4 linked regions of the Homo sapiens genome follow. The protein of the gene in region 3 interacts with the protein of the main gene of each other region in a pairwise test. Each region holds a gene or a part of one and is shown on either strand. Other genes may lie near its edges. The genes, in order: NBPF19, ASPG, DMRT3 and MGAT5B.

Evidence for each region.
Region 1: the proteins of DMRT3 (region 3) and NBPF19 interact in a two-hybrid assay, tested with the Homo sapiens proteins (one large-scale study listed by BioGRID).
Region 2: the proteins of DMRT3 (region 3) and ASPG interact in binary tests that used the Homo sapiens proteins (3 or more experiments, as listed by UniProt).
Region 4: the proteins of DMRT3 (region 3) and MGAT5B interact in a two-hybrid assay, tested with the Homo sapiens proteins (2 studies listed by BioGRID).

Annotation. Positions count from the first base shown.
Region 1 is NC_000001.11:149,472,145-149,480,548, forward strand, and holds the start of NBPF19 (NBPF family member NBPF19), read left to right. Parts: upstream 1-2,900; 5' UTR 2,901-3,651; intron 3,652-3,753; 5' UTR 3,754-3,788; coding exon 3,789-3,963; intron 3,964-5,800; coding exon 5,801-5,903; intron 5,904-6,735; coding exon 6,736-6,950; intron 6,951-7,997; coding exon 7,998-8,070; intron 8,071-8,404.
Region 2 is NC_000014.9:104,096,544-104,104,263, forward strand, and holds part of ASPG (60 kDa lysophospholipase), read left to right. Parts: intron 1-1,010; coding exon 1,011-1,094; intron 1,095-2,309; coding exon 2,310-2,436; intron 2,437-7,019; coding exon 7,020-7,132; intron 7,133-7,720. UniProt on the Homo sapiens protein: Exhibits lysophospholipase, transacylase, PAF acetylhydrolase and asparaginase activities.
Region 3 is NC_000009.12:976,902-984,621, forward strand, and holds part of DMRT3 (doublesex- and mab-3-related transcription factor 3), read left to right. Parts: 5' UTR 1-100; coding exon 101-554; intron 555-7,720. UniProt on the Homo sapiens protein: Probable transcription factor that plays a role in configuring the spinal circuits controlling stride in vertebrates.
Region 4 is NC_000017.11:76,872,545-76,880,264, reverse strand, and holds part of MGAT5B (alpha-1,6-mannosylglycoprotein 6-beta-N-acetylglucosaminyltransferase B), read right to left. Parts: intron 7,619-7,720; exon of another isoform or gene 7,516-7,618; coding exon of another isoform or gene 7,415-7,515; coding exon 7,302-7,414; intron 1-7,301. UniProt on the Homo sapiens protein: Glycosyltransferase that acts on alpha-linked mannose of N-glycans and O-mannosyl glycans.

The sequences.
Region 1 (8,404 bases), on a different chromosome or scaffold from region 3:
GGTGACAGAACAAGACCCTGTCTCAAAAAAAAAAAAAAAAAAAAAAAAAGGCATCTCACTTTAATAGTAAGAGGCCAGAATATGATGCTGGCAGCATGTTGTGAGGAAATGTATTAGATGAAAGAAGTTAAATTCCAGTTCTCCTTTTTTCAGAAATGAGGTATAGGGGAGAGAAACACGTACTTGGAAAGAATTGACCCAGCTGAATTGGAAAATGTGGGAAGGGGATGGGGAAGAGGCTGCTCCACCTGAGATCTGGCTCCAGGACTTACAGCAAGGGGAACTTGGGCAAGTTACAGACTGTCTATGCCTCAGTTTCTTTATCAGCAAAACAGAATCATCCCATAAACTATAAGGTCGATGGTATCAGCGGGTCCCCAAACTGACTGCACATCTGAGTCATGTTAACAAACACATTCCAGGCCCCACCTGAGCCCTCTGAATCAGAATCCCTGTAAGGAGGACGATGAACTTGAATTTGCACTGACTTTCCCAGCTGTTTCTTACTCTGATCAACTTGGGGGTAGGACCCATTGAGCTGCATCACATCATTCCAAAGCCAAAACACAACAGCAGGACAAGAATATTTTCAAGGCAGTCTCTAAAGCAGAGGAGAAACTGTTGAGGGAACCTAGAAGTAAAGGAGATCTGGCTTGCTGGGCTCCATTTGAACTTTGAGTACAACAGAGACATGAGCCCTTTGGGACACATGCCTGAGGTAGTGACAGTCCAGCTTTGGAAGAGTGGAAGCCCTAGTTCCAAATTCAAGCATGCTTTGAGTATAAATTAAGTTTACCTCTTTTTGCACAGCAACATGGCCAATCTTTCCTAAGCTGCTCAGCTTACAAGAAAAGGAATCATACTGCTAAGAATTCAAACTTCAGCAGTCATAGGTAAGTAAGGAAGTCTTATAAACCTATTCTAGCCACCTAACCAGAAACTCGAAATTTAGCAGGTTCTTTCAGTTTCAGGACAGTTGTGTTCACTAGATCAGAGGCATTGAGACATGAAGAACAGACCCTTAAAAAGGGAAAGTGTTCCCTTCAGTTTGAGGACATCACTGGAACATTAGGGAAGTGGGAACACAGCTGCTCACTCTACAGTGTGGGTTGCCTTTGTGTCTGGAATGTGTCTGACGTCCTGATCCCTGTGCACATTTCAGGGAGCCTTGGGAGGACCCCGAATCACTGATGGAATTGGGCAGTGCATGGAGATGGCTCAGCAGGATGAGGGTAAATGCAGGGGCAAGTCCAGGTCATACTGAGAGACAATGAGTGGCGCTGATGAGGACAAAGATAAAATCAAAAGTTTGTGCTTCATCTTCAAAAACTCAAGCTGATAACAAACTTGGCCTGATGAGAAATAATAAGTATTTTTCTATTTACATGAGAATTTAATCTCAAAACAGAAATCAGAAAAATATGAAGTCCAGGGCATAAAACCTAAAACTATTGCTCATATTTATTCTTTCTAAATAGAGCAAAGTGTACAATCTTCTCCATAAGACATACATTGTGGTTATAAAAAGGCAAAAGTCTTAGTGAGAATCATTGGTATTCCATAGAAGAGTGAATTAAACACAGCCAAGGGAAGACCCACGTCTCATACTTCTCTTGTATATTCCAAAGTTCCAGGGAAATTCCAGGTGATAGAGGTTATTTCCCATACTGTTAAAGCAAGGTTTCAGACACTTCTGAATTTTGGTCCCAGTACTCTAGAAGGGCACACCTCTGTCCTGGAAAATAATACAGGAATGAATACTCTTCCCGTGACCCATTCTGGTCATTCTTCCAGCATCACAAAAACCAAAAAATGGAAATATGGCCAAATACGTGATTAGCTGTCCCTCATCTTCAGGTTTCTTATCTGTTACTTATAGATAATAGCATTACCTTAAGGATTATGATGAAGATACAATGTCCAAATATAAACACAGTTTTGAGCAAAATGCCTTGTACGAATTGGTCAATGAATAATTACTAAATATGTGAATATTTACTGGATTGTATGGATCCTATGAATAATTACTGAATAATTATTGTGATTGCTTTTATTGGCAGTGCTGAAAACTCATCCCTTTGTGACCTCAAGTAACCCATGACACTTTGTGAACCTGCAGTTTTTTCATTTAGAAACTTGACAGATTTTCATTCTGACACAGAATGTCAGGTCTCCCAGACCCTAGAAAATACATTGACTTAAAGCCTTTGATACATCTCAAAGCAGTATCCTTACAGTGTCACTGGAAGATGGTGCGGGCTGCAGAGAGGGATGCTTTCAAATGGGATTAACCAGTCCTCCTTCCTTCACTTCCACATGAATGCTGGGCAGCCCAGGGTCAACCCACTGCACCCTCAACTCAGGCAAGTCCAGCAGCCAATCTTAGGAGACCTGGGCTACAGAACAGTCTCTCAAGTTCCAGGCTCACAAAACCTAGGTGGGGATGAAAGCTGAGAAAGCGAAGAGGTGGTTCAGGGGATCACTCTTTCCTACTTGTTCCTCTCACCTCAAACTCACCTTCTACTGCACAGCAACACTGAGGATCGCCAACCAACCCTGACCATAACCTTGATCTTGCCATGTTCTGTTAGTGGAATGCAACCCAAAATCAATGGTGTTAGGTCATCTCAACAAAATATATATCAAACCATATTCCATAAGAACTGCTCGTGGCCCTGTTCTTTTCAGTATATGGGAAAACAAAATGGAAACAACAAAATAGCATCAGGTTTACAAAACTTCCCAAGATAGATGGTCACACATGTTTTCAGGAGACCTCTATATAAATGACTTTGATCACTTGATACCTTGAAAAGAGGTCTTGTGGCACTAGAATGACATCTATAAGTGACAAGTATAAAATGTAGTGCTCAGTGACATTAAAAAACAAATCAACCCACATAGAGGAAGAGCTTTGGACGTAGGGATGTCAAACTGGTCTAGAATGTAATGAAAACCCAAGAAGGTGCCCCAGTAAGAAAGAGGAAATCAATCTAACAATGGGATGCAGCAGCAAGAATACTGAGACAGGAAAGAAAATATTTTAAAAAAATGAATTATTCATTCACTTTCTAGTGGATACAGAAAAAACTGCAGAAGACCCAGAGGATATCAGGGCAGGCTAAAAGTTTGATATCTTACACCTGTGGAAAAGCCTTAAGCTCTGTTTTAACTGAGAGCAGGTGGGGTGACTTCATGACTACCATTAAGAAAATATAACCTGTTGGGAAACTGTTTCTGCCTTGATGATGTTGTACAGACAAGAGATAAACAGTGAGGAATATGCTTAGATGTATTGGGAAAGACATGGGTCTGTGGCATTGTCACAAGGGTACACGAATACTGAGAGTGAATGCTGAAGGAATGATCCCCATTGGTGGTGACCCTCAGGTGAAAGTAGGGTGCCTGTGTTTCAGCAAAGCCTGGGCAATTGGAATGCAGAGCTCCTAAGATTCCATGACACCCCCACCTTCTAATTCTGTTATTGCAACTGCAGACGGTTACCTGGCACGCTGGCCACATTCTGCCTCACTCTTATCAGAGTCTGAGCTACTGGCAGTGCTTTCAGCTCTGAGTTGAGGCACCTCGAACCTTGTTTTTGTGGTGAAGGATCCTAAAGTGCTGTGGGGAGTGATCACATTTTTCACAACAGTAAGTTAAGAATTTCAGTTACTGACATCCCTCAGTCCTGATTAAACCGATTTGATTTCACCAGTTTTTAACCCATCATATGTTTGGGTTTCTTCTCCCCAGTCCCTGACTCCACCTCTTCTGCCACAAACGTCAGCATGGTGGTATCAGCCGGCCCTTGGTCCAGTGAGAAGGCAGAGATGAACATTCTAGAAATCAACGAGACATTGCGCCCCCAGCTGGCAGAGAAGAAACAGCAGTTCAGAAACCTCAAAGAGAAATGTTTTCTAACTCAACTGGCCGGCTTCCTGGCCAACCGACAGAAGAAATACAGTAAGATCTATAGGCTCACCATCATGAAAGTGATGAATGATATCCTGTCTTCTCTCTGAGACACTAAATGCTCTCTCCATCAAAAATAATTTCATCCTTCCTGTACTTCTAGGAAAACAGAAATGGGTATTTTAACATTTTGTTAAAGTTGGAAGACAGAGGTGCCAAAGTATTTAGCAACTTTCCATGTTTGCAATCAGATGGGGGTGGAACTAGAGTTAAACTCACAGTTATTGATTTCTAACACAGGCACAGAATGACCTGTTTTCTCCAAGGGGCTCAATCATGTTTTTAAGAATCCTCTCTGTACCATATAAGATCCTGCAGACAAATAACATCTAGTCTGTTGTTCTAAATGTCTAGGACTAGTGAACTTTTATTCAGTTCAAGTTTCTGTTGAGGCCCAACAGGCAAAGCTCTGTTCTAGTGACTCTGAGGGGAACTTGGTGATAGTAGCCAGTACCTGCTCTGAGGGGCTTCAAGGGGAGTCTGCTCCTAATAGAACCTGTGCTATCTATAAGTGACAGCATCAAGAGCAGGGAGTAGGGGCCGTGCAACGTGGCTCACTCCTATAATCTCAGCACTTTGGGAGGCTGAGGCGGGCAGAGCACGAGGTCAGCAGTTTGAGACTAGCCTGGGCAACATGGAGAAACCCCATCTCCACTAAAAATACAAAAAGTAGATGGGCATCGTGGCGGGCAACTGTAATCACCACTAATCGGGAGGCTGAGGCAGAAGAATCCTTTGAACCCAGCAGGCAGATGTTGCAGTGAGCCAAGATTGCACTATTGCACTCCAGCATGGGTGACGGGGCAAGACTCGTCAAAAAACAAACAAACAAAAAGATAAATAAATCAAAAATAAAAATAAAAAGCAGAGAGTACCTTGGTGAGAGTGAAGTCCTGCTTCCTGGTGCACAGGCTCTTGTTCCTAAAGAGGAAAGATCACACCGGAGAATGTGTGGAAGCAGCAGTGCAGTGTGCAAAGCAGGGACCCTCAGCCTGTCTCCTGGGCTCCATCCAAGTTGCTTGTCTTGTCTGTCCCTCAGTTTCCTCATCTGTTCAGAGGGTACTACAATAATACCTACCTCTGTAAATTGCTGCAATGAATTACATGAGGTATTTCCTGTCAATCTCCTTGAACATTAATTGGCACAGTGGAAACACTATCTATTAGTTCTTCATTCTGATGTTTCTAAATTAACACAAACTAATGCTGTTTCTAAATTAACACAACTAATCTAAATCTTAATGCTGCCTCTCATACTAATAAAGTATTTGGGCATATTTCCTTCATGGCCTTATTGTCTTATATCTCACACTTTATGCTTCAGATATGATTCTTAAAACCATATCTGAATATTGATTTAAAAATGAAATATTTTTAAAGTCCTTGACATATTTGTCCTTGAAATACCCAGTAAAAGGGAAACCATCAGTCCCATAGTCCTAGGGGCCTTCCCGACTGTACAAGAAATCACTACTTCATGCCCCAGTGCAGTGTTTTAGAGGAGAGGCTGCAAGACTTGGGAAAGTGGCCCCGCATTCAGAGTCAGACCTCAGGGGCTGTGAGTTCTGACTCCACTTCGTTGTGGTTGAATCATCTTGTCAACTTCCTTGATGCGCCCTTGAGTTTCTCTTTCTTCGTCTTTAAATTTTGGAGGATCAGATGCCAGAAAGTCAGGAGACTGAAGAATAAAGATGTGGAAATCCCTGTCTAGACCCTGGTACTGGGGAGAGTTTTGTCCTTGGGATGGACCTGGCTCCTGCCCTGTAGGCAGTGACCACAGCAGCATGTCCAGCCTTCCACTGAGGCAGGCGTGTCTGTCTTTTCTCAGAGTATGAAGAGTGTAAAGACCTCATAAAATTTATGCTGAGGAATGAGCGACAGTTCAAGGAGGAGAAGCTTGCAGAGCAGCTGAAGCAAGCTGAGGAGCTCAGGTGAGGGGACCCCGTGGGGGGAGGGCAGGCGGGTAGGTGTGTAGATCTCTGAAGTACAGCAGCTCGGCGGGGAGAAATAAGAACGAAGCTGGGCCAGGGGAAGGGCAGAAATTGCCATGACAGGCTCATGACACACAAATATTTATCAGTGAACAAGGATAATAATAAGTTCTGTGTTGCAGTTGTTTCTTAGAGCCTTGTTTTCTCTTTTTCAAACAAGTAATTGTTGAGGTGAAATTTACATAACACAAAATTCACCAAAGGAGTGGGAACCACCCAGCAGCATTCAGTATAATCAAAATGGTGTGCTATCACCACCCCACTTACCCTTAGTGAGAATCACCTCCTGACTGACTGCGTCTTCTCATTCTTTCACTCAATCAATGTTGCCTTCTTGACCCTGTCCTTCTTTTCTTCTTTCATCTTTTCAATTCGCCCCATCTGCACCTGGCCTCATTTCTGTACATGGCTTTGTATTTAGTGGCCGCAAGATGCACTATGTGTATTTTCACATGGAAATGTCCATGGCCAGAGTGAGGAACTGAAAGGATGTCTTTTTGAAACGGAATTAGGAAGACACCTACTTTTGTTTACAGAAGAGAAAGATGAATGGAACATCATCGAGGATCTTGCAGGAGCCCTCTCTGATAGAGGGAAAGCCTGTAGACCATTTTCTATTCTTCCTCTTGGCCACAGTCATTCCTTTCAACATGTGCTGACCTTCTGCTTGGAGGTCTCCTTGAGGACATTGTCTCAGAAGTCTCTGTTGCAATATTTGAACGGATCACTCAACCCTTTCTACTCTTAAATTTTCTCTACCGTCTCACCTTAGGCAATATAAAGTCCTGTTTCACTCTCAGGAACGAGAGCTGACCCAGTTAAGGGAGAAGTTACGGGAAGGGAGAGATGCCTCCCGCTCATTGAATGAGCATCTCCAGGCCCTCCTCACTCCGGATGAGCCGGACAAGTCCCAGGGGCAGGACCTCCAAGAACAGCTGGCTGAGGGGTGTAGACTGGCACAGCACCTTGTCCAAAAGCTCAGCCCAGGTAAGGTGGCCATAGGCCCTGATGACCCAAAACCCCAGGCTTATGAGAGGCTCCAGACCTCCATACTTTCACAATGACAGTTATATCAGTGGGGTTTTTTTCTACTACACCTATGTGGCCATGACATGATCAGGACTTCCTGGGTAAGAACAGAGATGGGAAACCCATGGGTTTGGAGGTCACAGTATTGCAAGTGTCCCTCCTTCCTTGATGGAAGGTGGTCTTTGGAGCAAGAGGCAGCATCTATCTAGTTTTAAAGGACAGGAAGGAGGCTGTGATGGAAGGGCGCTTGTTGGAGTGAAAAGAGCTCTGGGCTAAGAATGAAGGTTCCCAGGCTGTATTTTTGGCAGTGTTCTTAGTAAGTGTCAGTGAGTGATTTATCTTTTCAGAGTTTCTCTCTCTCCATCTGCAAAGGCAGACAAATTGTCTCTTGCAAGGGTCTGAAGCATCCAAATATGGGAACACTTACGAATGCTTTTCAAAATGAGATGAAGCCCCTCTCCATGTGGTGTTGGAGAAGGCACTTGATGTGGGGGCATTTGGTGGTAGGAAGTGCTTCAGACTGGAGCACTCCCCATGGATAGAATGTCCCTGAATAACACAGCAGAAGCCACATGGAGGGCCTGTGCAGTCTCATGACGCATAGAGGACTGTGGGACAAGTTTGTCCTCTCCTAAGAGAAAGAATGAGGTTTGAAATGCAAACCGTGACAGGACACCAAGCCTGTGCCTGGGAATCAGATCTGGCAGGATGGGGGAGACAGCTGCCAACGTCCAGAGAGAGGCTGCACAAGCCTCCAGTGATATGGGAAGCAAAAGGTCTTTTCAATATTTGGCCACATCTTGATGGTGGCCCTCCAGATCAGAAATGCATTGCCTGATGGATCAGGAAACCATGGCAGGGCATTCTGTTAAAGATAAAACATGAGAGTTTTCAGTTGAACGGTGACCCATGCCTAGATGTTCATGTCTCTGTTGCACATTGGGCTGACTGTGCTTGCAGACTGTGAAGTGGGAAATATCTGAACGAACACTTCTGTATTTACAGAAAATGACAACGATGACGATGAAGATGTTCAAGTTGAGGTGGCTGAGAAAGTGCAGAAATCGTCTGCCCCCAGGTAACACTGAATACTCAGGAACAATTAATGGATGGTAACATATGAGGAATATCTAGGAGGCACACCCTCTCTGGCATCTATGATGGGCCAAAAACCCGCATTCGCTTGGCCACAGTATGTGAAATATAATCCAGCTTAGACACAGGGTGCGGTAGCTGTCATGTTTCTCTATGTGTGCTGAGTGTCATGTCTGCACCTTACAGGGATAGCTGAGTCTTCATCCTCCTCAGCTCCTATCTGTCCAGTGCAATGAACAGCAGCTGCTCTCTTCCTCTCTGGTTCCCATGGCAGCCATGCTCTGTTGCAGAGAGAACAGGATTGCATGTTCCCTCTT
Region 2 (7,720 bases), on a different chromosome or scaffold from region 3:
AGGAGGGACAGGGCTCCAGCTGGTTCTCCTCTTCCCAGACCTTCCCGAGCCCTGGGGGAGCAGAACATCCCGTGGACCTCTCTAGGGGATCAAGGGCACAGTTATGAGCACCGCAGGACCCACGAACGTTCACATGCATGTTGTCCTCACTCTGATGTTGGCCTGTGCCGGGACATCCTTATCCCTGTTATACCTGTGGGGAAACTGAGGCTTACAGGCTAGGGGCTCACCCACAGCCACGTACCACGTGAGGGCTGAGCCAGGGAGCACCCAGGACCCAGGACTGCCACCCCCTGCCAGGGCTCTCTCCCTCCAGAGCCTCTGACTGACCACTTCCCGGCCGCCTCCTCCTGAAAACCCTGGCCTCTGCACCGCCACCTGCGCCCTCCTGGGACGCGCTGTTCAGTCAACCATAGCACAGTCGCCCATGCTAGACACAGGCAGCTGTGGGAGGAGCTGTACTGTGCCTGGCATCCCGAGGCAGTTCCTTTCTGTCACAGCCCACCCACCCCTCACCCCCACCACCCTCCTTCCAGCCCATAGTTCTGCTGGGGTAGCGAGGGAGCTGGGCAGGGCAGCTGCGGTGGGAGGCCTGTGATGCGTTCTCCAGTATGGGGACCGGCTGGCCCCTGCTGCCAGCACTGGGCTCTTGGACCTGTAGAGGGAGCTGGTGGGTGGGTTGAGGCCCTGGGTGCAGGCTGGCATGGTCTGCAGCCACAGCTGTTGGTGGGTGGGTTGAGGCCCTGGGTGCAGGCTGGCATCGTCTGCAGGGACAGCTGTTGTTGGCGGCCTTGGAGACAGGCTTACTGCCCAGCTCCTCTGAGTGCCCCGTTCCCCCAAGGCACCCATCTCCAGGCTGCCTGCTGCAGTCCAAGCCCGCCTGTCCTTCTCTTTCCCACACCCGCCTGGGGCTCCTGGGCTGGGCCTGGGGGTTTACCTGGAGAGATGAGCCAGACATCCCAGGCTTCTGGGCTTCCCAGGCCTCAGCTACTCCGTGGCCTCTCCCCCAGGTGCCCATCCATGCCCTGTGGAGCGACGGCCGTGAGAACCTGCTGGGGGCACTGCTCATGGCTGGCCAGTATGTGATCCCAGAGGTACCTGCCTGGTGCACGTGGAGGCGGGGCAGGTGGGGTGGGGGCAGGAGCCCAGACAGCAGCCAGGAAACAAAGTCCCCCCAGCCCCTCCCCAGACGCCACTGCCAATAGCTGGGTGCACTGTCTTCTAGATCTTATGTTGTGGATATTTACATTAGAGGTACGTATGGAAGTTCTACGTTAGAGATACGTATGGAGGTTCTGCGTTAGAGATGCATATGGAGGTTCTACGTTAGAGATACGTATGGAGGTTCTGCGTTAGAGATGCGTATGGAGGTTCTGCGTTAGAGATGCGTATGGAGGTTCTGTGTTAGAGATGCGTATGGAGGTTCTGCGTTAGAGATGCGTATGGAGGTTCTGCGTTAGAGATGCGTATGGAGGTTCTGCGTTAGAGATGCGTATGGAGGTTTTGCGTTAGAGATGCGTATGGAGGTTTTGCGTTAGAGATGCGTATGGAGGTTCTGCGTTAGAGATGCGTATGGAGGTTCTCCGTTAGAGATACGTATGGAGGTTCTGCGTTAGAGATACGTATGGAGGTTCTGCGTTAGAGATGCGTATGGAGGTTTTACGTTAGAGATACGTATGGAGGTTTTACATTAGAGATAGGTATGGAAGTTTCTATAAAAACAGGTTGCAGCCAGCAGGGCTCTGAAGGGTGTCACTTTCCCTCCCCCATGTCTTTCCCTGTTTCCTGTGGCGTCCCAGGAAGGAGTGTGCAAAGATCTCCCCCACCCTGGGGCAGTGGCTTTACCCAAGGCTCTTGAGCAGCTTGACTAGAGCCCCCACACGGGCTCCTGAGCAGGGGCCTCAGGGACTCCCATTCACCGTGGGCAGGGGCCTCCAGCAGCTGTGCTCGCTGCACCTTTGGGATGAGTTCCCAGGGCTCTGTAAGAAGCAGGGTTGGGGGCAGTGGGCAGGTGGGAAGGGAAGGAAGTACGGTACCCTCCTGCCACCCAGCCACTTGCACGCCCCAGGCCCTGGGGTCCCCAGGCCCCTGCAGGCTCCGGTTAGCCCACGGGTAGGTGGCAGGGCAGGAAAGGGCCCGAGAGGGGCAGTACCTGCTCCCAGGAAGGTCTCTGCCTGCGGTGGGTGGGGTTACAGTCCCACCTCCCCCTGGGTCTGGGCACCTCATTGATGGCAGGGAGGAAGCTGGAGGGCAGATGGGTCGGGGACAGGGTGGCCGCTGCTCTGAACTCTGTCGCTCCGTTCCCGCAGGTCTGCCTTTTCTTCCAGAATCAGCTGTTTCGGGGCAACCGGGCAACCAAGGTAGACGCTCGGAGGTTCGCAGCTTTCTGCTCCCCGAACCTGCTGCCTCTGGCCACAGTGGGTGCTGACATCACAAGTAAGCCCCGCAGGAGCAGGGCCAGGTGCCTGCCCAGTGCTGGTGCTGGGCGAGGGGCTGCTGCAGGGAGCTCGTGGCTGGGACTCGGCAGAGTTTGAGAGCACCATGCTTGGTTCTGACTTGCCCTGGCTTGGTTCTGCCCTGGGCTGTGGAGAAGCCAGGGCTGCGTGGACAGGGCTGCTGCGTGGCCACAGAGGTGGGGGCCTCCTCAGGTCCCTGCAGGCTCAGAGGCGGGAGGCCTGGAAGAGAGGTTTGGGGCATCTGGCCCTCATGTGTCCTGCCCAACCACTCGCCCCAGGCCTAGGAGGTCCCCAGTGACCACCTGGCTCTGCCACACCTCTGTGTGCCGTAGCCTCGTCCCCAGGAGTTTCAGGGAGTCTTTCTGTCCTCTGGTTCCGGCGGGCAGCCCAGCCATCCTTGTGGGGCTGACTCGAGCGATCCTGTGTCCTGAGGCTTCCCCCTGGGGGGGCCAAGCCCGCCCCCTGGCCCTGGCTGTAGGAGCAGCCTTGGAGCTTGTTCTCAGAGACTGGTGCCCTGCCAGGCCTCACCTGAGACGCAGGGCCACTCCAGTGGCCTGCCCGGAAGTCACTCCCTGGCCTACCGTCGCTCCGTCTGGGGTGTGCTCCTGCTGAGGGAGCCCCTGCTTCCTGGACTCTACCCGGCCCCTGCCTGTTCCAGGTCCACGGCCAGCATGGCCAGTCCTGACCCCACGCCAGCACCCCTCCCTGAGGCAGCGGGAGCATCCCCTCCCTCCTGGGAGATGCATCCTGCCTGCCCTGGCCCCCTGCTGTTTCAAGGCAGCCCCAAACCTGCCCTGTGTCTCATCCTGACTGACTGAGGTGGGGTCCAGCCCCGGGGAGGCTCCAGGGCTTGGCAGCACTGGCCTTCCTTTGGGGGCATTTGACACCTCACCCGGGGCTGGGTGGGGCTGCCTGCCCAGGACCAAAGCAGCTGTTCCTGTCTGGGCGGGTGGGGTGGAGGCGCCCCCTCACCCACACTGGGCTTCTGTCCAGGCCTGGGCCATGGCGGGCTGGTGGGTCAAGCCCACAAGGTCACTGGACGCCTGGGGAGGCCCTTCCTAGGGAATCTCCCGGTGCGGCAGAGGCTCCCCACTCCCCCATTTTAAGGAGGAGCAGACCCTCCTGGAGAAAGGGTTGGGCTATGGGCTGCTGGGGCACAGCTTCCTGGAAGAATCCCCAGACACAGGCAAGGACCCTGGGGAGCTTCAGGGCCTGGCATGAGGGGGCCCTGGGAAGGGTCTGGCAGGGCAGGGGCCTTCCTGGAGCATCTACCAGAAGTCGGGGGACAGGAGGGGCTCTGGGCATGTCTGGCTGTGGGGCCGTCAGCAGAAGCGGGTGGAGGCAGCGTCTTTGGATCTCAAGACAAGGCCTGTGTGTGGGAGTCCGGGCTCGGTGGCTGACTTGCTTGTTGCCCCAGGGCCCCTCAGCAGGACAGGACAGAGGAAACTGCCTGGTTCTACAGGTGAGAAACGGAGGCAGAGAGAGGCAGGCTCCCACAGGGAGGCACCGACTCAAGCCTGTGCGCTGTCTCCTGTCCTGGGCTCACACCCCGTCCCTTCTTCCTGCTGTTCCCTCCTGTCCTGGGCTCACACCCTGTCCCTTCTTCCTGCTGCTCCCTGGAGCACCTTCTAGGGAGTGTGAGGCCCAGAACACATCAGTGTGTCTACTGTGTGTGCAGCACACCGGGTCTCAGGGGCTTGGGCAGGGGCCCACTTGCTCACCGAGGGCCAGGGCAGCCCTCAAGGCTTCTTGGAGGAGGTGGCTTGTGAGCTGGTGCTGGTAGGGTACTGGCTTGCTTGCCCATGCTGGATGCTGGCACTCGGCCCCTCCAGCCCAGGGAGAAGGAGCAGCAAGAGGTGTGGGTGGTGCCCTGCAGGCCCGGCTCCCCCATGGGGCCTGATTCACACCTTATCTGGGGCTCAGGAGTGGAGCTTCTGCTGGTGGGTGGACCCCGCCCCAACAGTGCACAGAGGACCGTGCTCTGGATTCCAGGGACTCCGCCAGCACCGGGTGCTAAGCCCGGGCAGGCCACGAGGCTCAAGACACACCGGCCTCAGGCCCAGGGCCGTGGGGCAGCTCCTGGGCGCAGCACTAAGGCTGGTCTGGGTGGGAGGCTGCCCTGGCCCCAGCCCCCCACCCCTGAGTGTTTCCCACGTGCGTGTGGGTGTGGGAAACTGATGCCGGGCTGCCGGGCCGGTTCTGGCACCCAGTGTTGAGAAACCTCAGGCCTTGCCCAGGGCGTGGCTGCTGGGGCCCCTGGGGAGGGGCACAGGTTGGCAGTGTGCACCCTCAGCCTCTCTGAGCCAGCTGGGGGTAGCAATGCCGGCCTGGGCCCGGGTGCCAGCTGCCAGCACCCTGTCGAGGGCTTGTCCTGGGCTTTTTACCCACTGTCTGGGAAGTGAGGGGCTGGGCTGGTCCGGGAGTCATGGGCGGGCTTGGTGCTCCTGTCCACAGTCGGCTCGGCGCCAAGGGGTGGGGGGATGCGTGGGAGGCTGGAGGAGGCCCTGCTGGCCCTGTCCTTTCCATGTGTCTCAGGAGACCACACTGTCACCCCCAGGCAAATCCTGCACCCTTACCCTTCTGTGCTGAGCCCTGACCCCGGCCCACTCTGCTGGGGCCCTTGGAGCAGAGGAGGGTGGAGAAGGGGATATGGCTGTGGGGTCAGGCCAGGCCTGTCACTCACCAGCCATGGGTCCTTACGCTGGGTCACCCCAAAGCAGAGCCCCAGAGCCCTCCTCTGTGCACTGGGAGAAGCCACCTCCCTCCCAGACGTGACCCAGCCACCCCAGCTGTGCCGCATCCAGCTTTGAGGCCGCAGACTACACCCTTCGGCTCCTGTGCTGAGCTCCCGTATCTGTAGAACAGGGCCATAGCCCCTCTTGGGGGTAAGGGGCTGAGCCTGCAGGCCTCACCTGGCCATGGAGCCACCAGCGCTCCTCTCTGCCCCCGGGTGTGGGGTCACGATTCCCCTGGCCTCTAGCAGGCCTGGGCAGGAAGGACTGGGATCCCAAGGGTGGCATCCACAGACTCTCAGGAGGCGGGAGGTCAGTGCGGGGTGGGTGTGGGCCCTCTTTGTCTCTGTGTAGCCCCCTCTCAGCCATAACTCTTTGCCAGTGGCAGCGGTGCCCCCTCCTTTCCTGTGCTGATGCCTTATCTGCTTGTCCGGCTGAGACACACGCCCTCAGTTAAAGGGCATCTCACGCTGCCATCATGTGGGGCTGACTGATGCTGTGGGCTCTGGTGGGGGTGGAAGACTCACTGCTGGGGGCTCCGCTCCCCCCTCTCTCATCCCCAGCACCCCACATCTCCCCCCTTCAGCTCCACCATGCCAGGAAAGTCCTTTTTATCGCATGCAAGCTGCTCTAGCGGAAGCGGCCGGAGACATGTGGGTGACATCTCCCTGTGGGCAGGAGGAAGAGCCCTGTGCGGGGGTCCTCCTGCCCAGGTTCCTGTCCCAGCACCGTGCCGGGCTCTCCAGGCGCCCAGGCCCTTCCCCACCCCTGGGCCTCGGTTTTCCTGGGCTGGGCTCTCCAGCCTCCAGGGTGTTTACTGCCCTGGGCAGCTCTGACACCTCACAGTGTGGTGGGAGTCCCCAGTGTCCAGCCCTGCTCTGCTGGAGGCTGCCATGAGTGTGGAGAGGGGCAGAGGGAATGGACCTCAGCCTTGGCGCTGGCCTCTGAGGGTTTGGGGGCCGGGCCTGTGGCATCAGCCTCCCACCCCCACCCACATGGAGCGGGAAAGTCGGCAGAACCCTGGGGGCTCAATTGCTGCCAGAGTGGCGGCCTTCAGCTCGAGGACAAGCATGTCCTCTGGGGAGCCCCTCTGCATGGACGGGTTCAAGGGGCACTGACCCCAAATAGCCATCCCTCCCCACTTCACCTGGGGCCTGCACCTCCACCATCACCCACCCTGGGTGTGGGGAGGGGGTGATGGGCACACATTAGGATTTTGGGGTGAACTGGATGGAGGCCTTCTCTCCCCAGAGGTGAGGGGTCCGAAAGTCCATTTGTTCGCTCATTCAACCACTGACCCGGTGGGCAGTGGGCACAGTGGGTGCCTGGCAAGGGGCAGAGGAGGCTGGCTGGTTCGACGATGCTGCCCCATGCCTGTAACCCAGCGCAGTGACTGCTGGTGGCTCCCCAGCTGGGCATGCCTGCCCTCCTCGCCTCTGCGCTCGCCTGACGCCCCCATGCGGCCTGCAAGACACAGCCGGGCCTCCATCTCTGCAGGACCCTCCTGCCCCTCGCCTGGCCAGCGGAGTTTCCCTGGGCTTCACCCTTGAGACTGTGTTGCCCATTGCTCGGCCATCGGTCTCTCGCTGGCCAACGAGTGCCTCCTCCCACAGCCCCGTGCACGCTGCGGAGCCTGGCACAGGCCGGACTGCGCGGAAGCCCGGGAGGATTTGCCTGCGGGAGAGGAGGCAGGGCGAGGGGGCTGAGCCGCGAAGGCTCAGGGCTCTGAAAACAAGGGAGGAGGCGGCCTGTGCAGAGGGCCAGGCACTGGGCTGGGGTCTCGGCTGGCAGGAGGCCTGAAGGCACCACACAGGCCCTTCCCTGTCCTCAGTCAACAGGGAGCTGGTGCGGAAGGTGGACGGGAAGGCTGGGCTGGTGGTGCACAGCAGCATGGAGCAGGACGTGGGCCTGCTGCGCCTCTACCCTGGGATCCCTGCCGCCCTGGTAGGGACCGCCCCGGCCATCCTGCCCCTGCAGCCCTGAGCCCCAGCCCTCTGCAGCTCCCACGGCCCTCAGGCTCCCTGGGGCCCTCACCAGCCAGTGCAGACCCCGCGTGGACCTGAGATGTCTGCAGTGTGGCCCCACCAGCCCCAGGCCCTGTCCCCTGTCCTCCGTCGTGGTGCTTTCCAGCCTCTCGGGGAGTGGGCAGGGTTGGGGCGCGGCTCACAGCCAGAACGGGGTCCTCCATGCTTTTCTAGAGGCAGCGTCCTCCCGCAGATTCCAGCTGGCTGGGAGCCGCCCCTGCTGTGCTGGACAAGGGTGTTTGCTCTGGGGCCTCTGATGGCCTTCTTGGCTCCTCTCCCACCTCTCTGAAGTGTTTCCACGGCGTTCTGCCACACAAAGCCTTCGTCCCTACAGACAGGGCGACCCTTTGGGAGAATGTGGGGGGAGCAGCCCCCTCCAGGTGCCAGCAGCCATGCACGTCTGCCAGGAGCCCCACTGTCCCGGGAGCAGAGCAGGCACCAGCTGCCCCTGGCTTGGGGTCCCTCTCCTTGGGAGGGCATGGGGCGAGTCTCAGTGGTGCTGAGGGCA
Region 3 (7,720 bases):
GCCCGGAGGCCGCCCCTGAGCGGGCCTCGCAGCCCCGCCGTCCAGCGCTCCCTGGCCCTCTCCCGCAGCCAGGCTGCCAACTCATTCGGGAGCCCGGGGCATGAACGGCTACGGCTCCCCCTACCTGTACATGGGCGGCCCGGTGTCGCAGCCGCCACGGGCGCCCCTGCAGCGCACGCCCAAGTGCGCGCGCTGCCGCAACCATGGCGTCCTGTCCTGGCTCAAGGGCCACAAGCGTTACTGCCGCTTCAAGGACTGCACCTGCGAGAAGTGCATCCTCATCATCGAGCGGCAGCGGGTCATGGCTGCGCAGGTGGCGCTGCGCCGGCAGCAGGCCAACGAGAGCTTGGAGAGCCTCATCCCCGACTCGCTGCGCGCTCTGCCAGGGCCCCCGCCGCCGGGGGACGCCGTCGCCGCCCCGCAGCCGCCGCCAGCCTCTCAGCCGTCGCAGCCGCAGCCGCCGCGCCCTGCTGCCGAGTTGGCCGCGGCCGCCGCGCTGCGTTGGACTGCCGAGCCGCAGCCCGGGGCTCTGCAGGCGCAGCTCGCCAAGCCAGGTAAGAGCGTCTGAGGTGCGGGAGTTTGGCCGGGCGCGGGGGCAACTTCGGAGTGCCAGCTGCAGCTCCACTTGGGAGGACTGGAGGCAAAGTTTTGGGACGTGGGCCTGTCGGGGCTTTCCTTCCTACTCTCCGCCAGGCCGGGGCTTCCTCTCCCGGGAGAAGCCGGCTGAGTCTGGACCCAGCGCGAGTGGCACTCGCGCCCGCAGGGAAGGCGCCTCCGGGCAGCCAAACGACGGGACTGTGCGTCAGTATCGCCAGGTGCCTTCCCAGGTTGAAGGGTTCGGAACGTGTCAGATTGAGCAGGGAGACAACGGAGTTGAGACAGGACAAAATTAAAACCCACGTGCGCACACTCACTACGGTGGGGTCGGATTTTCCTGGCTGCAGGCTTTAGAGGTCCTTGCCATTTGGGGGTTGGAATGGGTAGGTAGGTGTAGGGAAGGAGCCAAGGCCAACACTCGGCTGAGTCGAGCTGGCTGTGCTTCTCGGCCGGCCCGGCCCTGCCCAGGGCCCAGGAAAATTTGAGTGAGGACAAGTATCCAACTCTCAGAACCCTGGCCTTTCTAGCTTTGCTCCGTGGCCTCCAGACTCTTGTAACTGGTGAAATAAGTTCCATTTAGCAATGATAGTAAAAGGGTCCGGAAAGGCTTGTGAGCTGATAGCGGGAAAAGAATCTGATGCGCCCAGAATTCACTCCTTTGCAGAACCTCCTAGATCCTTTAACACTGTTCCCCAGGCTGCCCTCAGCTGTCTTCGTGGTTTAAAGGAATACAAAAAATCTGATCCCCCACCACCCATCCGTTTCCATCCAGGCCTCCTGAGCTTGGCAGGCCTGAGTTGAGTCTCTTAGTCTCTCTCTTCCTGGGGAATTTCTAGCTTGCGGTTCTGCCCAGCTCAAGAGCTCTTTTGATGGCTCTTGGAATTCAGTGGATATGTGTTTGGTGTTTCTCCTTAACTGGGGCAAATGTGCAAAGGAACACAGCCCACCTTCTCCCGGAAGGGGGCATGCTGGAATTAGGAGTGGGAAGGTCCAGAGCCCTCCTGTAAGTAGAACTGTGGCAAAACTGGTACCTACACTGACCTGCCAACTCCCTAAAGACGGTACCCCTAGCTTCGGAGAAAGGCTTTCAGGAGCCCAGGACTGCTTTGTCTGGATCCTGTGGAGCTGAGGAAGTGAGGCGGACTCACCTGTTTCATGGTGAGTCAACGGGTGACTGGCAGGTGGAGTTCTGCTGCCCTGTCTTTCCGCCATGCTTTCCAGGCCTGAAGCTCTGAGAACAGCCTGTGTGACAGTAGAGCTGGGAATTTTAAAGCCTGAAGAGAGTTTGCCGAACTTGGATTTTGTGGATATTTAATCCAAGTTAGCATATAAACGTTTCTCAGAAATGATCGCCAGTTGTCTCTCTTTTGTCTGTCTCATCTTTTTATATTTATGGATTTGTCACAGACGAAGAGGAGGGAGGAGAAAAAGGTTTTATTATTTTTCTCCCATAGGTTTGAACAAATAACAAGGAAGAGTTTGGTCTCAGCTCTAGAATTGGATTTGTACCAATATATTTTCTTAATTTTTTTCCATTTCCAGCTTCTCTGGTTCCGTTTCCCCCAGGACTAGGGCAGAGGCCTGAGTTAACATCAGAGGTTAACTCAGCAGCACTCCTGTGATCGGGCATTGGGTTCTGTGGTTTTTATCCAAGGAGATGCCTTTCACATCCTGTGTTCTTCAGAGTATTCTTTGGGATAGCTAAAGTTCATGATTTCTAAAGAGTCACAAAACTAAAAACACAACCCCAGGAGGAGGAGGAGTGAGGGCAGGCAGGAAGGCAGAGTAGGCAGCGGCAGCAGGATACGTGCTTTGGGAGAATAGAAAAAGGAAACGGATCTCAACTGGACAAAGCAGAGCTGTGCTGTTTTACTCCTACTTAGCACTCAGGGATAGCCTGAGCCTTCCGAATTGAAAACAAGTAATTGCAAAGGAGAATAGGATTTATCACAAGGCGAGGTCCAAGTGAGGACTTTGGGGGACCGAGGCATCAGGGACCAAGGGCTCAGTTTCCAGCTGGTCACCCCCACCCCCCCATACCTTGTACATTGATGTACACAACTTTTGTTTTCTTCTTTCACTTGCTGTGACCCCATAATTCCCATTTTTTTAAAAAAAAGCAAATCACCACTCTGATGGGGAGTGGGGAGAAAGGTAGGAAAATAATAGATGATTGTTTAGGAAGACAGGCATACAAGTGGATCCATTCTACACAGTGCTTGTAGAAATAAAGTCTATTTGGGGTTTAAGCTGAAGAAAACTGCTCACTGAGACTGCCTGTTGCTATAGGTATTATACCCTTTTTGCAGTTGTTCTAATAATGTATTTGTGTATAACATTCCATATGTATTTAGAAGCATATCAGAACTACTCCTGAATAAGTGCAGAGAGTAAGCAAAACTAAGTGCAGAGAGTAAGCAGAACTCTATTGGAATGGTAGTTCCACATGTACATTAAGTATACAGACCATCAGAAATCTTTCAATATCTGCTGGCAATGTAGATCTATTACTTTGTGAACTTTGACTTTGAAATGTGGTTAGTCTTTTTGCGGGGCAAAGGACCTCTTTAATACATAAGCTGTGAAGAGAGATTTTTTTTTCTTGTAAACAGAAGCACATGGAGTCTTTCCTCTCCAGAAATCTTTGAGAAAAGCACATGCCTTAAGGAAGAGTATGTTTGCTGTGAATCACTGGAGGAAAACCACCCCGTTGAGGGAGTGACATATTCACATCAAAACTCAGTTTTGTAACTGGAAGAATTTTTTCTCAAATTCTGCTTTAGATTCTTTAAAGGAATGGGGTTATTTTATCTAATGGTGTAGTATGTTGAATATCCCTTTCAATGTGTGGTGTTTTTAAGGAGAATTTTCATATTCTAGTGGTTTTTACTTCTAGTTATGAAGTATTCTTTTTTCTTTTTGAATGTAGATTTCTCCTTCTCTTTGATTACCATCTACGATGGACCTGGAATTAATTATTAGATTTTGATTGAGCTGAACATTTTGATTTAAGCTATGTATAGATATATTAAGCTATATATATCTATTAAAAGCTATATATATAGCTTAAATTTAAATTCTAATTTAAGCTATATATGTGTGTGTATATATATATGTATATATACATACACTATTTAATTCATTTATTCTTCTCCTAAATTCCCTCTATGTTCTTCTCATACTCCTTCTCCCCATGAAAATACAGGAGGCATGAAGATCTTCCAACTGTTAGTGTATCTGAATCAGCAGTTTTAATCAGCCTAGCCAGCCTTTCAGGACGTGGGCTCAAGAGCTGAGGGAAGTTAAGGGTCACTGCCAAGGTGAAAAGCTAAAGTTACATTCTTGTGTTGTGGCTCCCTTCCCTACCCCCAACTTTTCCTCCAGGGGAGTGTCCTCGGACACCTTAGACTGTGGTGCGATGAGAAGAAAGATCTGTGGCTGTAGACTCTTCCTAGGTCTCCATCTGCCATCAAAATGAATATGTACACACATTCTTTTAAATGCTTTTAAAAGGAAAAAGAAATCGAAAACATGGTTAGGAATAAGAGAGAAGGATCAAATGGGAAAGTAGGATCTTCTTTCCTGTTTATTTCTTAGGGGGTGGGGGCGGAGCAAACAAGATAACTATAGGGGGAGAAGTTAGGAGATTTTGGAAAACTGCCTTTATTTTATTTTTTCCTCTTGCCCTGCGCCTCCTAGCATCTTTATGCTTGCCTCTGGGCTTTTCTGCTCCGGCTTGACTGGGTCCCGCAAAGTCCACTTCCTTTTTTTTTAATTTTTTTTTCCCCCAAAGAGAAGCACCTGCAAGTGTAATGGGTGTTACGGAACACTCGTCCAGGCCAGGATGAGAAACCCTCTGACTGTTGGCTAGGAAGAAAAGAAAAGCGGGAAATACTTAAAAACCATTTATGAAGTGTACCTGTGAATTGAAAAACAGGGTCTCATTTTAAGACAGCTTGATTTGAGGGTGAGGGGCTTGACTCAGTTGCATTTTAAAAAACAAAACCCAACCAAATAAAAAGGAATACGCATACAGGCACTAAGGTCTCTTCCAAACCCCACCCCAGGGCTGGCTCTTGGGGCTGGGATGCTGCTGGGGACCGGTCTTCCCAGCTCTTGGCCTGGCCGGTTTGCACGCAGTGCAGTTGCTGTGTGTGTGTTGCGGAGGGTTGCGGCAGCTGGCCCAGGACTGGGACCCTGGCCACAGCGGGTTCAAAGTAGGGGCAAAGATAGGGGGCAGCGGCTCCTTGCGGCCGCAATGGACTGCCGTCTCCTTGCACCAGGGGGTCGGAGCTGCAGCTGAGCCCAGCTTCTCGCCGCCTGCTGGGGACGGCTCTTTCCTTGGTCACTGTCAGGAAGCAGCTCACTAGGCAGCTCAGGAACCGCCCAGAGACAGCCACATCCCTTGCCTTTCCCTTGCCCAGCTCTTGGGCCACCACTCCCTCTCTGCTCTTCCTGAGCTTCACTACCCTCTCCTTCCCAAGGCAGGAGTCCCGAGGTGAGTTGACACCTTCTGCAAAAATCATGCAAACAAAAAATAGGATGCCAATATTGCATGGGACATACTTTCTCTAGAAAGCCTTCTTTGTTTATTTGATGGTCCCACTTAACTGGACATCCTGTTATTTTATCTGGCAACCATAGGCCTAGGCCTTCCTCACCCAGCCCCAGTACCCACGCAGGGCACCCCTTGGCGGTGGGGTCGCCTGTGCTCATCTCCTAGTTCTTTCTCTGCAGAGCCCGAGCTGCCTGGGACTGGCGTCAGGGAGGTGCTGGGGTCCATCCTGTGGATCTGGGACGGTTTGGCAGGAAAAACGAGAGTGTGTTCCACGTCTAGGAACCAGAGTTCTACTGCCATCTGGGAAAGAACCTCTCTCCACCTCCAAATCACTCCTTGGTGTTATAAATCTGGAGGATAGCCGTGCTCTCGACTTACACAACCAACTTTTCTTTTTCCCTGATGGATGAACTCCCGGGTTTAAAAGATTACAGTAATCACAGGAGGACAGTGTGAATCGAATCTGATAGCAATAACTTTCGGAGAAGGTCAGGCTCAAGTGAAATGTTACCAAGCAACAGGCATTTTGTTTGCAAAATACAATCAAAGAGCATTGATGAGAAATTCTTTGCTGCAGCCAGTCAGCACTTTCTGCTAACAGCTTTACAGAGAGAAAAGGAATAAATCTTCATAAATCAAAGTCCCTGGAGGACTCGGAGCCCTTTTCTGGAAATGTTGCACTTCTTCCTGACGGGAAGGAGGACTAAGCCCAGCAAAAAACCATGGGCCTGCCTGCCCTGCCTGCCCGCCTCCTCTTTCTTTCTCTTCCTTTCTTCCTCGCCTCTTGCTTTTTTCCTTTCTTCCCGCCTTTAAACCTGTTGCAGCCCCTTAGCCATTAGCTGCTCAGGTCCTTGGACCTCCTTGTCTAGTCCTGTGTGGCTCTGATGGCTTGTGCACGGGTGCTCATGGCAGAGGTGGAGGATGCAGTGATAGGACAGCTGGTCCTCACAGGTCCACCGCCTTGTGATTGTGTCAGTTACGTCCCACATCGCCTTAGTGAGTCATCCTCTTGCCTGAGCAATGCATACTACTGTTCTCAGAAGGGAAACTAAAATAACTAGGTATGGGGTTTTTTTGCATTTTATTGCATAAACAGCTATAAAAGGCACAATCAAGTACCAAGTAACAATAATAATAATGAAAAACTTAAGAGTCGGCACATCAATTCTTTACAAAATCTCCAATCTCTTGATTACAACAACTAGGCAGACATAAATTTTACAGAGCTGGGATTAGTGTTCCACGTTTTTCCCACTGATTATTACTTTGTTTAGTTCAGTATATATCTCTAGCACCCATAATCTTTATATGTAAGCATTTAAAACAATATTTCCTCCTGTGAAGACACCATGGTCTGCCCAGCTGCTATCCTTGGAATTATTTGCTGTATTTCACTGTGAAATATAACCAACTGCAGCTTACTTGGAATTTTGCAAAAGATTAGTTAGTAAACTGTATGCCTCTCAGTGGTCAAGAGGCAATGCTTTGATCATCTCTGTATGATCTTACCCAGCACAGTACATGAGAGCATAGTAAGGCATTTAGGGGCATTTGTTAAATAGATGGATGAGTTAGACAGGTGCATTTTGGAAGGTACCAAATAAACATGTAGATTTGTAGGTAATTTCCCCTCTGCTTCTTGGAAGGTATTCCCTTCTGAGTCAAGAAAGAGATCAAAACTAATTTTTTACAAAATATGTGAGGTCCACAGTTGCAAACCATACTTCCTTCAGCCCAGTCCTGTCTATAGCAATATTCCCCCAAAATATAGTGTCAAGGAACCACTCTGATTCCTTCATACGTTATTAATTCAGTGTTGTTAATGATTTTTTAAAAAGTAAAGCATGGCTAGTTTTTTTTTTTTTTTTAACTTTTCACAACCCTCCCCAACCCGGCAATCCACCCCAGGAAGAAAAGGAAAGTTTTTAGATCGAGATCATTCCCTGGTGTTCTTTAGATTTTCAACTATTCATTTTTTTAAAATAATTCATCACTTCTAGTGTGAGATGAAGGTAAGAGAAAATGTGAAGCGTTTGTCTACGATTAGAATTCTGATTAGGCAATGGTCTCCTGTAAAAGTCTCATCCTGCCTGGGCTCCCTCCCTTGCCATTGTTGTAAGATTTATGTGCTTTGAAAACTACCCATCAAGGACCTGTTATTTACAGGTGTGTTCCCCACAGCTCAAGTGAACAGATGAGGATATGACAATCTATGTTTCAAAATGCGTGACATGATTTCAAAAGGGATGGGGGAGTCCAGTGACTTTTGAGCTAGGAAATATTCCTCTCTGCTCGAGTTTTTCTGTGTTTTCATTCTGTATGTAAGAACTATTTTGTTTTCGTAGATATAATTGGATAGAATGGATATAACCTATGACATCTAAGTCAGAAAGATTTTTCACATTTTTTTTTTTTTATTTAGACAGTCTAATTCTGTCGCCGCAGCTGGAGTGCAGTGGTGAGATCTGCAGCTCACTGCAAGCTCTGCCTCCCGGGTTCACGCCATTCTCCTGCCTCAGCCTCCTGAGTAGCTGGGACTACAGGCACCTGCCACCATGCTCGGCT
Region 4 (7,720 bases), on a different chromosome or scaffold from region 3:
AAGCTGCGATTTCCTTAAAGACACAGGGCTCCTGGCTCTGAAGAACAGGCATGAATGGGAGCAGGGGGGATGTGGCGGGCAGAAGAAAAGGAGGAGAGAGAGGCAGAGATGCCCAGGAAGGCTCACGGAGGGGGTCGGGTATTGGAGAAAATGGGCATATTTCCTCCCCACCCCAAGAGCTGAAGCAGCAAAGGACCTCCCCACAAGTCCCTCTACGGAAAACAGAGTGGATTTTCAAAAACTCAGCTGGGACCGGGAAATTTCATACTAGCGTTAGATGACACTAACTCAGGTCTCTCCAGCCTCTCAGGCCCTCCCCACGCACTCACACACTCAATCGGTTAATCTGGGCAGCCCTGGTGAGCCATCGCTCATAACTTGGGCTGGAGTAGTCCTTCTCCAAAGGAGTGGGAGAAAACAGGATATAGATAGCTCCCTCTCTCTTTCAGCTTCCCAGAGGCGGGGGCAACGGTTTACTTTTTCAGATCACTCTCGTTTCAGAGATGTCTGCCCAAGCCCATCATCCAAATTCAATACCGAGCTTGCAACCAGTGCTTGTAGCACAGAGTAGATGAAGAGATTTCCATCATTTCAGCTAAAAAAACTGGAGGACATCAGATGACCTGCCTGGCCACTGCTTTCTACAACTCCACAGGACACCACTGGTATTGTGGCCGCCTAAAGGGTGTCTGTCGTGGAGTCGTGCAGCGCACAGCCTGCGTGGCCTCACTGGGCAGCCCTGGTGGGCTGTCGCTCATAGCTCGGGCTGGAGTAGTCCCTTCCCCAAAGGACTGAGATGAAAAAAGGAATGTTTCATCCCATAAGGTGTCTCACAGCTGGGACACCATAGCGGTGCCGTGGCCAGAGCACTCAGGCCTGACTGACCACAGAGCCTGGTCAGCAGCTCGTTCCTGCAGACGCAGCACCCCAGTGGTGCTGAGCCCACAGCGTGGCTTTTGGGGTGACGCTGTGTTCCCTGGAGCGCCTTAGGCCTGGCACCCTGCCTGCTGCACTACTGGTCCCACTCTCCAAGCCCACCCCAAGCTTCCTCTGCCCCTGCCTATCGCCTGAGCCCCCTCCCAGAAACCTCACGGTCACAGCTCCCTACCCACACCCCACGCTCCCAGTCCCATTGAGCAGGCTGAAAAACAGATGATGGGCCAAAAACTATGAGGGCTGGCCTAGAGCTGCAGAGGCCCCTGAAAGTCAACAAAGTGGAGGCTGCAGCAGCAGCATGGTGGCATGGGCCCAGTCAAGGGGGATGGGGCAGAAGCCTGGACTCCAGGCCCGCTCTGCTGCGGACCAGACAGGTGAGCAGGTCACCGTCCTTCTCTTGGCCTCAATTTACCCTCATGTAAAATGAGGGGGCTGGGCTCATTGAGCTCTGAGTCTCTATCGCCCTGACTTCTGTTTCTGTGTCTTCCCCTAATTGCCTCCGGAGATTAGAGAAATGGGAAAAGAAAGAAACGCTCCTATAAAAACTGGCAGCAGGCCAGGTGCAGTGGCTCATGCCCATAATCTCAGCACTTGGGGAGGCCAAGGTGGATGGATTGGTTGAGCTCGGGAGTTCAAGACCAGCCTGGGCAACATGGCAAAACCCCTTTTCAATAAAAAATACAAAAATTAGCTGGGCATGGTGGCATGTGCCTGTAATCCCAGCTACTTTCAGGGCTGAGGTGGGAGGATTGCTGGAGCCCATGAGATTGAGGCTGCAGTGAGCCACGATTGCACCACTGCACTCCAGCCTGGGCAACAGAGCGAGACCCTCTCTCAAACAAACAAACAAAAACCCTGAGGACATACAGAGGCATGGGTCATTGCAGCCTGGGTTTCACGATGACCATGCCTGCGGAACCAGATGCCCCTTCTGTAGTTCTTCAAGCCCCACCCCATCAGACTGGACCAAGTCCCCCCGTGCCAGGGGCTCAGGAGCTGCTCCCATCTTCTGCAGATGGCATGGAACTCCAGAAACCCCTGAGACCTGGGGAGACAGCCCCTACCCCTTCCCAATGAGCCCTCGGGGTACCAGGCACATTTTGTGCTCTGGAAATGCCCAAAGACTAGGCAGGGGGTGGGTACCCAGGAGGGAAGCAGGTCAGGCCGACTCTCCCCCAGTGACCCACTCCCCTAAAAGCCACCACTGGCCCCGGGACTGTCAGCAGAGCAAGCTGACATCGCTTCCCCAGAGTCACTTCACCACTCTTGGCATCAGCTAAATTGAAATATATCTAATGTGAGGCCCCAGTGATACAACTCAGAACAGGCACACGTTCCCTCCATATTTCCATATAAATAAGGAAAGCTGGGACGCTGGGAGATACAAATAGATCCTCTCATTTACAGACGGGATGTGTTTATTACCCACCGAGGCCCCGTCTCCTCCCCAGACGCTCTTCGTCTCTCTCTGTCTCTCTCATCCTCCTTCGTCCCCCTTTTCTTGTCCCCATCCCCACCCTTTACCATTGGAAATTGAATGAGCCCCCATCTCTCCAGAAAGCAGAGACCTCCCTGGCACTGAGAAGGGAACTGTGACTGGGTGTTCGTGCAGCTGGAGAAATGCGCACATTTATCTCTCTGTACTCGCTCACCGCAGAAACCAGCTGAGGCCACGGGAGCTCTGGGCTCCGGGCAGCAGAGAAGACAAGGACAGGCCGTGGGAGGCCACACCAGGCTCTTCCTCAGACCTCCGGGCCCCGGTCCCCCATCCATCAAGCCTGAGAGAAGAGCCCCAGGGCCCCTTAGTACCAAGGGCCAGAGCCAGAGCCAGAGCCATCCACAGAGCCAGGTAGCCTTCCCCAGGTTCAATCCCTGGTGGAGGCCTGGGAGGTCTGGCAGGGCCCAGTAGACACATGCAGCTGTGCCATGGACCTTCAGCCTACAGACCCCTCCCAAAAGATAGCCTCCTACCACTACTTTTTTTTTTTTTTTTTTTTTTAAGCCGAGACAGAGTCTTGCTCTGTCACCCAGGCTGGAGTGCAGTGGCGCAATCTCAGTTCACTGCAACCTCCTCCTCCCTGGTTCAAGCAATTCTCCTGCCTCAGCCTCCCGAGGAGCTGAGATGACAGCACGTGCCACCACACCCTGCTAATTTTTGTATTTTTAGTAGAGATGGGGTTTCACCACGCTGGCCAGGCTGGTCTCGAACTCCTGACCTCAGGTGATCCACCTGCCTCAGCCTCCCAAAGTGTTGGGATTACAGGCGTGAGCCACCACACCCAGCCTCCTACCACTGCTTCTTCAAGACAAGTCAGAGGGCAGGAAACAGCCTCACAGCACTATCTGCAGCCACATGGGGAAGGAGGCCTAGGCGAGAAGGGCTGGAAGGGCAGGAAACAGGAGGAGGACCTGGGGTGGGAAGTGGGGCAGAGCTGCCTGGGAGGGGGCAATGCCGGAAAGCCCTCCCCAGAGCCCAGGCCCAGCCCAAATGCAGCAAGAGGGAAAGAAGTCAGATCTCCTCCGGGTCATGATTCCCCATGCAGCCTCCTCTCTTGAATCTTTAAGATGAGTGTGCAGAATACAGAATGAGATGTCAGTCACATTTCATCCCCAAAGTACGCAGTTTATCATGAAGTATAAACAGGCACAGAGGAGAATTTGGAGGCCCCACACATAGACCACAGTCCACAAGAGGCTGAATGACGCCCTCCTCTTCTTTTCGAGAAAAGCCTTCTCCTCCCTCTCCCTTCGCAGCCACAGTCCATGTGGGACCCCACTTCTGTCACCGGTTTGACAGGGGAGGAGAGATTGTTTTTCCCATTTGTACACAGATTGTTTTGTTGACCAATGCAATTTTTTTTTTTTTTTTCTAAATAGCAGGGCCTTAGAGGGTTTCCTTCTCCTGATTCTGCTCTGGGGTTGTCTAGACTCCGCAGATTTCTTTTGGGTAACAAAACGTGCATTATCCAACAATCCAACCTTGGCCCAGGACTTCCAAGATCCCTCCCCAGGCCTGATTCAGCCAAGCAATTTGCCAAGCACCTCCCCGTGAAGCCCTAATCCTTCCCTCAGGCATCTCCTAAGTGGAAATGCTGGTACCTCCTAGGTTTTCTGCAGGGCTGCCCCAGGCACTGCGTGGGGATGTAGTTTGAGGGGCTTCTCTTGCAGGATCAGGATGTTAAACCCACATTGCACACTGCTTTCCCGGCCTGAGTCCCTGCCTTGGGTCTGCCCAAGCAGATTAGCTTGATCCAAGGGTATGAAAGAAATCATGGAGGACAATGCGAGTCGGGATCTAAAGTGAATCAGGGTCAGCTCTCCTGGGTTCTCAGCGGCCCTTTTCTTGTCTGTCTCCTCCTTCTCCCGGACTTCAGTTCTGTATTCCAGGCACTCAGCTTCTGAGGCCTGGGAAATGTGAAAAGACTGGCTTGGATAAACTTGGTCTGAGAACTAATGTTACAACACGTAGAATCTCCACTCCTAGGTATACCCAACAGAAATGCCTACGTATGTTTACCAAAAGACGTGCACTGAAATATTCATAGCAGCACTGTTCGCAAAAGCCCAAAACTGGAAACGACCAAATGCCCACCAATGGTCGGATGGATAAAAATATGGTGGTGTACTCACACAATGGAAGGCTACACAGCAAAAAAAAAAAAAAAAAAAAAAAAAGTGCAAGTGACTACAACCGCATACAAGATAGTGAGTCTCACACATGTACTACTGAGAGAAAAGACACACACAAAAGACTACTCCTCTATTAGTTCATTCTCAACGTTGCTACTAAAGACATACCTGAGACTGGGTAATTTATAGATGAAAAAGGTTGAATTGACTCAGAGTCCAGCATGGCTGGGGAGGCCTCAGGAAACTTACAATCATGGTGGAAGGGGAAGCAAACATGTCCTTCTTCACATGGCAGCAGGAAGGGGAAGTACCGAGCAAAAGGGAAAAAGCCCCTTATAAAACCATCAGATCTTGTGGGAACTCACTGACCATCACAAGAACAGCACCAAGGTAAACCACCCCCATGAATCAATTACCTCCCACAGGGTCTATCCCACAAGAGGTGGAGATTATGGGAACTACGATTCAAGATGAGATTTGGGTGGGGATACAGCCAAACCATATCAACTCCTGAAACGATTCCATGCTCACAAAGTCCAAAAAACAGGCAGAACTCTTCTATGTGATCAGAAGTCAAGTCGTGACTATCCTTGGGTGAGTAATGACTGTGAAGTGGCATGGGGACACTTGGGGACTGATCACGTTCTGGTCCTTGCTCTGGGTTGTTAGTTGCATGGATTGTTCATTTGTGTATATGATACCCCATTAAAAAGTTTAAGACCACGTACACGCACACACACATGCACACACATGCACATGTACACACGAATGCACACACACCTCTAGTCCAATTGTATGACCTTGGGCAAGTGCTCTCCTATGTGGTTCCATCCATCTTTAGACCCAGACCTGCAGCTGGGGTTGGACCCCCACCCCCATACCCAGGCAAAACTGCATAGCACCGAGCACAGCAGGGCTCCTACACCCCTTGCACTCTGGGGCACTGAGTCTGATCCTGCCCAGATGGGGCAAGAGCCATGGGGTAGGTGAGTTACCTTGACTCTCTAACCCCCTTAGGGAGATAGGCATAAAAACCAGAGCCCGGCCAAAAACCCCTCCTCTCCCCCATCCCTAATTCCCACCTCTTAGACCCCTGACCTTTCTGGAGGTTCAACTTCCTCAAGGCCTCTGTAGCAGCCCACCCAGATAGGCACACCTCCTTTCCAGGGGTGGCAGCCAGGTAGTTTATGAATCTCTGTCTACACCCCATCTTCCCATGCACCACTTTTCCCACCAGCCCTTCCCCAAGCCACCCTTCCGGTTCACCTTCACGACTGCTCCCTCCCATCCCCACCCACCTCAATCCTCAGCCTCTCCCACACAGACACTCCAGCACCTCCTTGGTCCTCTTTCATAAACACGCTTTGCTGCAGTGCCCCCATTTCAGACTCGACACATCCATTAAGTATTGATGGAGTGCTCGCCGTTTGACAGATGCTGCTGAGGCCCCTTCCCTTGCTTTATCTTTGCACAGCCTCGCAACGAGCCTGGGAAGTGGGTATTACCATCCCCATTTACCAGAGGAAAATTTGGAGGCTCAGAGATTGAGGAATCTCTGCAAGTCAGAGACGGGATAAATTAACTTACACTCAGGCTTGAATGACTAATAAGCGTGAGATTCCTTCTGAGGGCTTTTGCAAGTTTAAAGAAGTGCATGTGAAACCAGAGGAATGAATCTAATGATGAGATGACAGATGGCATAATAAGAGCCCCTCAGCACCCACCCAGATGACAACCTATTTAACTTGGGATGTCTACAATATTCATCACTCAGAACAGGGGAGCCAGAAAGCCAAGCCCTGCAAGTTCAAGAAGGTGGACTTCAAGGAGAGACTTCCCCAGAGGGGCAGGGGAATCTCACAGAGCCAACCCTCGAACAGTTCCAGAAACCTACTTGCCTCAGTTTCCCCACTACCCCATGTCCCTCCTTTTGACCAGTGACCAAAAGAACCCCCATGATACAGTGAGCAGGGCTCAGTTCTGACCCCCACCCCTCCTTAGGTGAGATGAGGTGGGGCTGGGCCCAGCTTCAGGAGGAGGGCTCCCAGCTGGTCACTCTTGTGCCATGTGGCACCAACCATGCTGGGTAATGTCCACGTGTGAGCCCCTTCAATCCAACCTCTGCAGAAGGTCACTGCTGTCCTTCTCTGTAGGGAAGCCAGGTGACTCAGCCAAAGGCACACAGCTGGTAGGTGATGACAAGGATGCAAGCCCAGACCCACCAGACGCCCAAAGCCCATGCTCTGATCTCCATTCCACTGCCTTGCAAATATCGTGTGGGCAAGGAGTGATGGGGCCTGGGAGGGAGCTGTGTCCCAAGAGCTCAGAGATAAGACATTTAAGCCCATGGCCAGGCCCGTTCCCACATGGCCACAGCCTGGGCCAAAGGCAAGGAAATGTGTGCCTCAAGGAGACAAGTGTCATATCCAGAGACCTCTCACCCCTGACACCCAACTAAAGAAGCAACACTGGCAGCCTCTTCTGAGGCCTGGAAGACCCTGGCTTAAAGGCCCTAGCCTGGCCTGAGAATCCAGGCCAGAGGAAACCTGATGACCACAGCCAGACCAGAGCCAAAGTGCATGGAGGGTCATACGGCCCAAGCCCAGGCCCCCTCCACTCACATCCACCTACAGGGCGGCCAGAAAGCCAGGTACAGGGCTAGGCTCAGAGGCACTTCCTCTTTGACCCACAAACGCCCTCACTCATCTCACACTCCCCTTGCCCCACCAAGGTACCTTCTGTGCGGATGGTGAATGGCGAGTCCCCCAGGCGCCGGGCCGAGAACTGGCCTCCCAGAGACGTCATCAGGAAGCAGAGAGTGAAGAAGCCGATGCCCAGGACAAAAAGCCTGCGGAGAGGAAGGAGGCGGGTCAGGAGGGCAGGAAGGGCCATCGTGCCCTGACGCTCCACCACGTACCGGCTGCACAAATGTTTTACGAATGAGTGCATGAGTGAAGGAAGCAAGGGAGAATGAAAGGATGGGGGCTGAGCTCCAGACCCAGGAGGGCCCCCCCACTATAGGATAAAGAGAGCTCAACTACAAGATGCTGGCCTCGAGCCACACGAGAAACCACAAGGCAGAATGACGCACACTTAGGCATGAGGCAGGCGGGCTCTAGCCTCCAGGCAGAGCTGGTTCATTAACAGCTGCAGT